2 linked regions of the Homo sapiens genome follow. The protein of the gene in region 1 interacts with the protein of each later gene in a pairwise test. Each region holds a gene or a part of one and is shown in the gene's direction. Other genes may lie near its edges.

Region 1 (3,500 bases):
ATGTATATGTAGGTTCAGAAAATATTGACATTATTTTATTAGCAGTGTTATTAAACCACTTAATTATAAACAGTAAACTAGTTTGTAAACTAGCTATTATGTGAAAGCTAATTTTATTTTAAATTTGTAATGATTTAAGTCAATTTTCACTGTGAATATTAACAGGTTTCTAATTAATTGTTTCTTTTTTGTCTTTGTCCTGCTGATTAAATTTGTTTGGTGTTATATGACGTGTTAGTCAAGGTGAGTTAGTTTAATGTAAATATAATATTTGGTGTTCAAAAATTAGTTTGATTCCTTGGTTTGTTTCTCTTAAAACTGAGTCTGAATGGTGTAATTTGTAATTCTACAATATGTTTTTGTGAAATAATCTCCCATGACTACCATTTAAAAATTGTCATTGATACATAGCACTAGATGACCTTTCCATTATAAAAGCACTTCATCCCTGAATGGGGTCACCCAGCACATAACTGTTGGCTAATTTGTAGCTCTATAATGAGGACTGCACCTTCCTTTGTCTCATTTAGTCAGGGTAGACAAGGTTATACTATACTAAAACCCCCAAATCTCAGTGACTTAGTGTCACACAGGGTTATTTCTAATTAATACAAAGTCTGCTATGGCAAAAATGGGGGACCATTACCTTTCACTACCTTTTTACTATTGATATAGCAATCTAGGCTACTTTTTTTTTTCTTTTGTTTTGAGACAGAGTCTCACTCTGTTGCCCAGGCTGGAGTGCAGTGGTGTGATCTCGGCTCACTGCAATCTCTGCCTCCTGGGTTCAAGTCATTCTCCTGCCTCAGCCTCCTGAGTAGTTGGGATTACAGGCGTGTGCCACCATGCCCAGCTACTTTTTGTATTTTCAGTAGAGACAGGGTTTTGCCATGTTGGCCAGGCTGGTGTCGAACTCCTGAGCTCAAGTGATCTGCCTGTCTTGGCCTCCCAAAGTGTTGGGATTACAGGTGTGAGCCACTGCGCCTGGTCTGCAATCTAGGCTACTTCTGTGCTGTGGTCCCACCATCTTAACATGAGGCTTCCTCAGTCACCACAACAAGGGAAGAGAAAGCTGGAAGATTACTCACTGGCTCTTTCAACGTTTGGCTCTGAAATGACACAGATCACTTCTGCTCACAGCCTATAGGCCAGAACCAGTCATAGACTACACCTATGTGCAAGGAGGCTGGGAAATATAGGGGATCAGATGAATATTTGTTGAACCCACTTTCTGTGTCATGGTTTCTAACATTACTGACATGCAGTGTGCTACTGGTACCACACTGTGGGCTCTCTCTGATCTTCTCAATTTCTTGCCTTCTTCCCCTAATCTATAAACGTTTGCCAGGCCCAGGGAAGAGAGGGAGAATTCTTCCCTGTTTAAAAGTTCTCTTCTGACTGTTCTCTGCATTGAATTTTAGGCACCCTTTTCTGTTGACGTTTTTTCTTGCTTTATAGATGATATTCCACTTAGTCGTCCTAAGAAAAAGAAGCCCAGAACAAAAAACACACCAGGTAAGACGTTATTCTTTGTTGTGTGGGATCACAAGTTTTCCCAGGACCTCAGGCGTAGTAAACATCACAGATAAGGGAGAATTAAGGCCCCAGCAGCCCCGAATCTCCACTTCATTGAGGATAGAATTAAGGCCAGTTTGAAGCAGTGGAATTCCTGGTGGTGGTGAGGTACAGGGCAGTGGGCAGCCTGAGGAGTATCTGGACGCATTCATGGAATAGAAGGTGGTGCCATCTAAGCTCCTATTTCCATGATATTCCTGGACTCTTTAAGGTCTTTTATCCCCAGACAACATACATGGTTTTAAGCTATGATTGATTCCAGACCCTTGAACAAGATACTGAATTTAGAAACACAGAGTTCTTAAATCTCACTTCAATCAGAATATCTCTACATTACAGCATGAGTCTGAAGGCATGGCCACATCATCATTTAAATAGTAAAGCTTCAGTCATGAGCAGAACTCGTTTTTGTCTTAGTCATCCACTGATAATCCTGGAAGTTGCATCCGTAACTCTAAACTCAGCACATCTAGAATCCATCGTTGCCTTTAAGAATAAATAATTTTTTTACGTCTCATGATTTTCTGTTAATGGAACCTACCATTTTCCCAGCCCTCAGGCCTGAAACCTCAAGATTATCTTTACCTGATCCTTTAACTTCACTCTTTACTTGAGACCTCTCACACTCCTAAAAGGTTTCTGTGGTTGCTGCTCCTTTTTTAAAACAAACAAACAACAACAAAAACATAAAAGGAATCATACATACTATCTTTGTTTCTTAATACATAGAGTTCTATGTATTCTTAAACAGTGACTTCATTGTATTACATGATAAGAATGTACCATAATCACTGCTCTGTTATTTATTTAGGTTATTTCCAATTTTTCACTCCAACAATGTTGCAGTTCTGCATAAAATAGTGGGTGGTAGGGAAGAAGTACTTCTGTAGGATGGATTGCTAGCAGTGGAATTGCTAGGTGCAGGATGTGTGCATTATTAGTATGACTGACTCTGCTAAATTACCTTAAGGAAGCTTTAGTTATTATCTTGCTACCTGTAGAGTCTGAGAGTGTCTCATTCTCTAAATCCTTAACAACATTGGACAATAATCAATCTTTAAAATTTTTTTGTTAATTTAGTGGGGGAAAAGTAGCTTATTTTAGTTTACATTTCTCTATGTACTACTGAGGTTAAACATTTTCATTTGTTTATTGATACATTTCTATTTTTTTTTTTTTTTTTTGAGACGGAGTCTTGCTCTGTTGCCCAGGCTGGAGTGCAATGGTGTGATCTTGGCTCCCTGCAACCTCCACCTCCTGGGTTCAAGCGATTCTCCTGCCTCGGCCTCCTTGAGTAGCTGGGACTACAGGCGCATGCCACTACACCCGGCTAATTTTTGTATTTTTAGTAGAGAGGGAGTTTTGCCATGTTGGTCAGGCTGGTTTCGAACTCTTGACCTCATGTGATCCGCCTGCTTTGGCCTCCCAAAGTGCTGGGATTCCAGGCATGAGCCACTGCACCCAGTGCAATTTCTATTTCTTTTGTGAAGAAGACAAGCAAGGAAGGGAATGCAGTCAGGTATGTGTTAAAATTCTTTTAAAAGATTTCATGAGGGAAGAAGTTGAAGTGAATGACCAAATGAAGAGACTTATAAATTACCTGCTAACTCCAATTATCCATGATGACTTTATTATTCTTTAACTTATTAATGAAGGACTTTACTATATAGAGGCTGATGAAAATTCTTAAGGCAAGAGGCAAGTAAGAGAATTCTCTATGGTATCAGTTTTTATTATGTTTTCCACCTTTTTCAAAGTTCTAAATGTTCTGAAGCAATTTCTCCTCCTCCTGTCTTTTGCTCTTCTTTTTAGCCCCCTCGTTTTTTCTTCCTCAGCCTTTCTTATTCCTTCATTTATTTCTTTTCCTAACTTAAAGCCCAAAGTTACAGGTGAGGAGGAAGGAAAGATTTGGGGGATAATTAGTT
Region 2 (4,195 bases), on another chromosome or scaffold:
TGTCTTACATTTGCTCATTAATTCACTCATTCAAAAAGTATTTTATTTCTACTGTGAGCTAGGTAGTGTTGTAAGGGCTAAGGATAGAGCAGTGAGCCAAAGAGACAAAGCCCCTCCCTCGTGGAGCAGACATTCTAGTAGGGAGATAAACAAACGATAAACAACCACACACTTAGTGCGACAGAGGGCAATGAGTTATAGCAGGCGAGGGGCATGAGGGGTGTCAGTGGAGGTGAGGATGTAGGATCTTATGTAGGGTGGCCTGGGAAGGCGTCTCTAAAAGCTTACCTCTGAGCAGAGACATGAAGGATGTGAGGAAGCCACCATGAGGCTATTTAAAAGAAGAGGGTCCTGGGCTGAGGGGGACATCATGTGCAAAGGTAGCTGATGTGTTCAAGGGGCACAAGAAGTTCTGTGTGATGGGAGCGGTGTGAGCAAAGGGGAAAACGCCTGGAGCTGAGGTCAGAAAGGAAACCAGGAGCCAGATCTTCTAAGGTCTTATAGGTCATGAAAAGGGCTTTGACTTTTATGCTAAGATGGGCGCCACTGGAGAATATCCCCTTAAAATGAGCTACTTTACATGCAGGAAAAAAACAAACAAAACTCCTTTCTTTATAATTTCAACATACCATTTTCAGTTCTCCCTTATAAAGAAGTATAATTTGCATTATAATGTAGCTACACATCTGAAATATGTATTCTTAATGGATCTCACATTTTCTAATTACTTACTTTAAAAGATAATATCTGAAAGCTTTGGGTGTTTGAGATGGCTTTTATCTCCAGATAAGGAAAGAGAAATCAAACAAAACCATTTCTGGGAAACCGAGGTCCATTTCTTGCCTAAAGTCAAACAACTTCAAAGAGTCTAGGCTAGAATCCAGGTCCAGGTAGACATCATTAATTTCACAAAGCCAGATGTCACCTGGCAGATCCCTGCCTGAGAGCCTAAAAGGACATGTTGTAAAGCAGGTGTCTAGGATCATAAAATGAGCTGATGCCTATGAATGGCCTAAATCCCAGTGAAGTAGTTACTAAAAAGCAGCCTGGTAACTGATTGGATACAATAAGGGCTAGAAGAGGTCTTGTTGATACTAGCACATTATCCAAACTTCCTGATGTCTGACCCAGGCCTTTGGTAAAGGACATTTTCTCAACATTGCCTTCACTGCATACCCAGCCCCAGGTTTCTCATATGACTGTGCAACCTAGAAGTCACCTTCAGACACCTTGGAGGGTCTATAGTCGGTAAACTTAGATAAGCAAATGAAAATTTACTTACTTGTATCAGGAAAGGAGAGGTCAGCACAGGGGCAGTTAGGAGAGGCTGGGTTGGGGACAGATTATTTAACAAAGGGAAGCACATATAAGAGAAGGTAAAGAAATATTCCACTTGCAAATCGCGGTACCTGTGGATGAGAGACATAGACGAGAGAGTGAGATGGCCTGGTTTGCCCTCTACCTCCTGAGCCTTCTCTGGGCTACAGCTGGGACTAGTACCCAGACCCAGAGTTCATGCTGTGAGTATGATGTTTTTCCAAGGAGGTCAGGGAAGCAGTTGCCCTGGGGAAGGGGCTGTGACCTCTGACACTGAGTGGTTGAAAATAGCAATCACTATAGGAATTCCAAAATGGGTAAGTCTGAGTGTGATTGTGTGCTGTTCATCCTTCCTGACTTAATAGCATAAGTTCTTTGAGAGACAAGTCTATATGTTTTTTATTAAGAGAGATGGGGCCAGGTGCAGTGGCTCACACCTGTAATCCCAGCACTTTGGGAGACTGAAGCAGGAGGATTGCTTGAGCCCAAGAGTTCAAGACCAGCCTGGGCAACATGGTGAGACTCCATCTCTACAAAAAAAATAAATAAATAAAAATAAAAAATTAGCTGGGCGCAGTGGCATGCACCTGTGGTCCCAGCTACTCAGAAAGCTGAGGTAGGAGAATCGCTTGAGCCCAGGAGGTCGAGGCTGCAGTGAGCTATAATCACACCACTGCACTCCAGCCTAGATGACACAGCAGCACCCTGTCTCAAAAAATCAATAAATAAAAATAATAGAGATGGAAGTACTACTGCAGGAATAATGGTTGATGGTACAAAGACAGACACTCAGTGGCTATTGTGACCAGACACCACTACATACTAGTGAGAGATTTTGGTACTCACTGAGGATAAATTATATCCCAAATCTTTAATACTCTTCATGAAAGAGTAAGGAAAAAAATGAATGCAAGGAAATCAGTGATTTCCAGGAAAGTGATAGAAACTATGAGAAATGTCATGAGCCATATTGCTTGAAGTTACTAAATTTAAAAATCACTTTCTTAAGGATATGGATTATTTGAGAAGATGTAGAAACTAATTGTCCTCAAAAGTAAAATCTCACCATTTTCTCCATTTCTCTTTAGTGACTTAGGACACTAATGCTAATCAAGTGTTCTCCTAAAAGGCATCAAAGATGGCCAGGCGAGGTGGCTCACGCCTGTAATCCCAGCACTTTGGGAGGCCAAGAAGGGTGGATTACCTGAGGTCAGAAATTCGAGACTACCCTGGCCAACATGGTGAAACCCCATCTCTACTAAAAATACAAAAATTAGCCTGGCGTGGTGGTGCACACCTGTAATCCCAGCTACTCAGGAAGCTGAGGCAGGAGAATCACTTGAACCTGGGAGGCAGAGTTTGCAGTGAGCCGAGATCGTGCCATTGCACTCTAGCCTGGGCAACAAGAGTAACACTGTCTCAAAAAAAAAAGAAAGAAAGAAAAAGCATCAAAGACACGGGGATAATGTTTTTGAGAAGGAATGAGGGTTAGAAGGTGAGTAAATGGCTTTCCTCTTCTCAGCCGTTCCCTCAGCACAGGAGCCCTTGGTCAATGGAATACAAGTACTCATGGAGAACTCGGTGACTTCATCAGCCTACCCAAACCCCAGCATCCTGATTGCCATGAATCTGGCCGGAGCCTACAACTTGAAGGCCCAGAAGCTCCTGACTTACCAGCTCATGTCCAGCGACAACAACGGTGAGACATCTGAGCCGCTCGCACTCTCCCTGAATCTCACACATCACATACCACCTCCAGATTCCAACTCAGCGTCCTTCCCACCCCAATGCTGCCTCTGACTGTAAATAAACTACCCAAACACCTTTCCTTACATACCTGGAAGGTACCTGGAAAGAAACATGTGTGAAGTCAGAGCATTCATGGAGGAGGTCAGTAAAGCAGGGAGAGCTCTGGACTAGACGTCGAAAGAGCAGCCTTCTGGTTCTGGCTCTGCCACGTCATAACTCTGGGATCTGAGACAAGTCACTGGATACTGCTCAGCCTCACCTTGCAGATGATTGTAGTAACAATAACCCTACTACTACTAATAGCAATGATAATAATAATAAAATCTCTGTTCTGCCTATCTCCCAGGAGCTGCCTGCAGGCTCAAGTTAGATAAAGTTTAAATTATTTTGCAACTGTAAATTTCTGTATATAAATCTATATGAGTATTTTGCTGCTTTTCTAATCAAATACCAGGGATTCTCAAATACCAAATACTAGAGTCATCAAGTTACACAGAGGCCACTAGATTAAATATTCCCTTACGTATTCTTCCATATTTTTTTCTTTGGAAAGACAGATCAAAGAACTGCTCATATTATTAAAAAGTCAAAATGCTCTAGATAAAAAGCAGAGAACTCATCACTGGCTCCTGGAGAGCTGTCCCCTGAGGATGTCTCTGTCTAACCGTTGTGTTCTCTTCTCTGCAGATCTAACCATTGGGCAGCTCGGCCTCACCATCATGGCCCTCACCTCCTCCTGCCGAGACCCTGGGGATAAAGTATCCATTCTACAAAGACAAATGGAGAACTGGGCACCTTCCAGTAAGACCTGACTGGAAGGGAGAAAAGAGTCAGGCATATGGTTTTACCTAAGAATTTTAAACCCAGAAAGGAAAAGGGTGGGGGTGGAGAGAAAGGCAAGTTAGGGAAGAGACAATGTATCCTTCACTCTGGTCCTTCTGATAATCCAGACCAGAAAGATTCATTTCCAATCCAAAATGAACTAGAAAAGGTCATGATCCCAAGGACACAAGCTTGTCCAGCCATCACCTGTCTAAAGACACAGAGTCATCCCTTTTATTCTTTGCAGATGCCTGATGACATTCTTTTGAAAAACACTGAAGTTGCTCTTTGCCTATGCTGTGTCTCT

What was found.
Region 2: the proteins of TMEM237 (region 1) and CBLIF interact in binary tests that used the Homo sapiens proteins (3 or more experiments, as listed by UniProt).

Annotation. Positions count from the first base shown.
Region 1 is NC_000002.12:201,637,004-201,640,503, reverse strand, and holds part of TMEM237 (transmembrane protein 237), read left to right. Parts: intron 1-238; coding exon 239-243; intron 244-1,458; coding exon 1,459-1,515; intron 1,516-3,500. UniProt on the Homo sapiens protein: Component of the transition zone in primary cilia. Required for ciliogenesis.
Region 2 is NC_000011.10:59,842,700-59,846,894, reverse strand, and holds the start of CBLIF (cobalamin binding intrinsic factor precursor), read left to right. Parts: upstream 1-1,395; 5' UTR 1,396-1,441; coding exon 1,442-1,520; intron 1,521-2,839; coding exon 2,840-3,016; intron 3,017-3,753; coding exon 3,754-3,867; intron 3,868-4,195. UniProt on the Homo sapiens protein: Promotes absorption of the essential vitamin cobalamin (Cbl) in the ileum. After interaction with CUBN, the CBLIF-cobalamin complex is internalized via receptor-mediated endocytosis.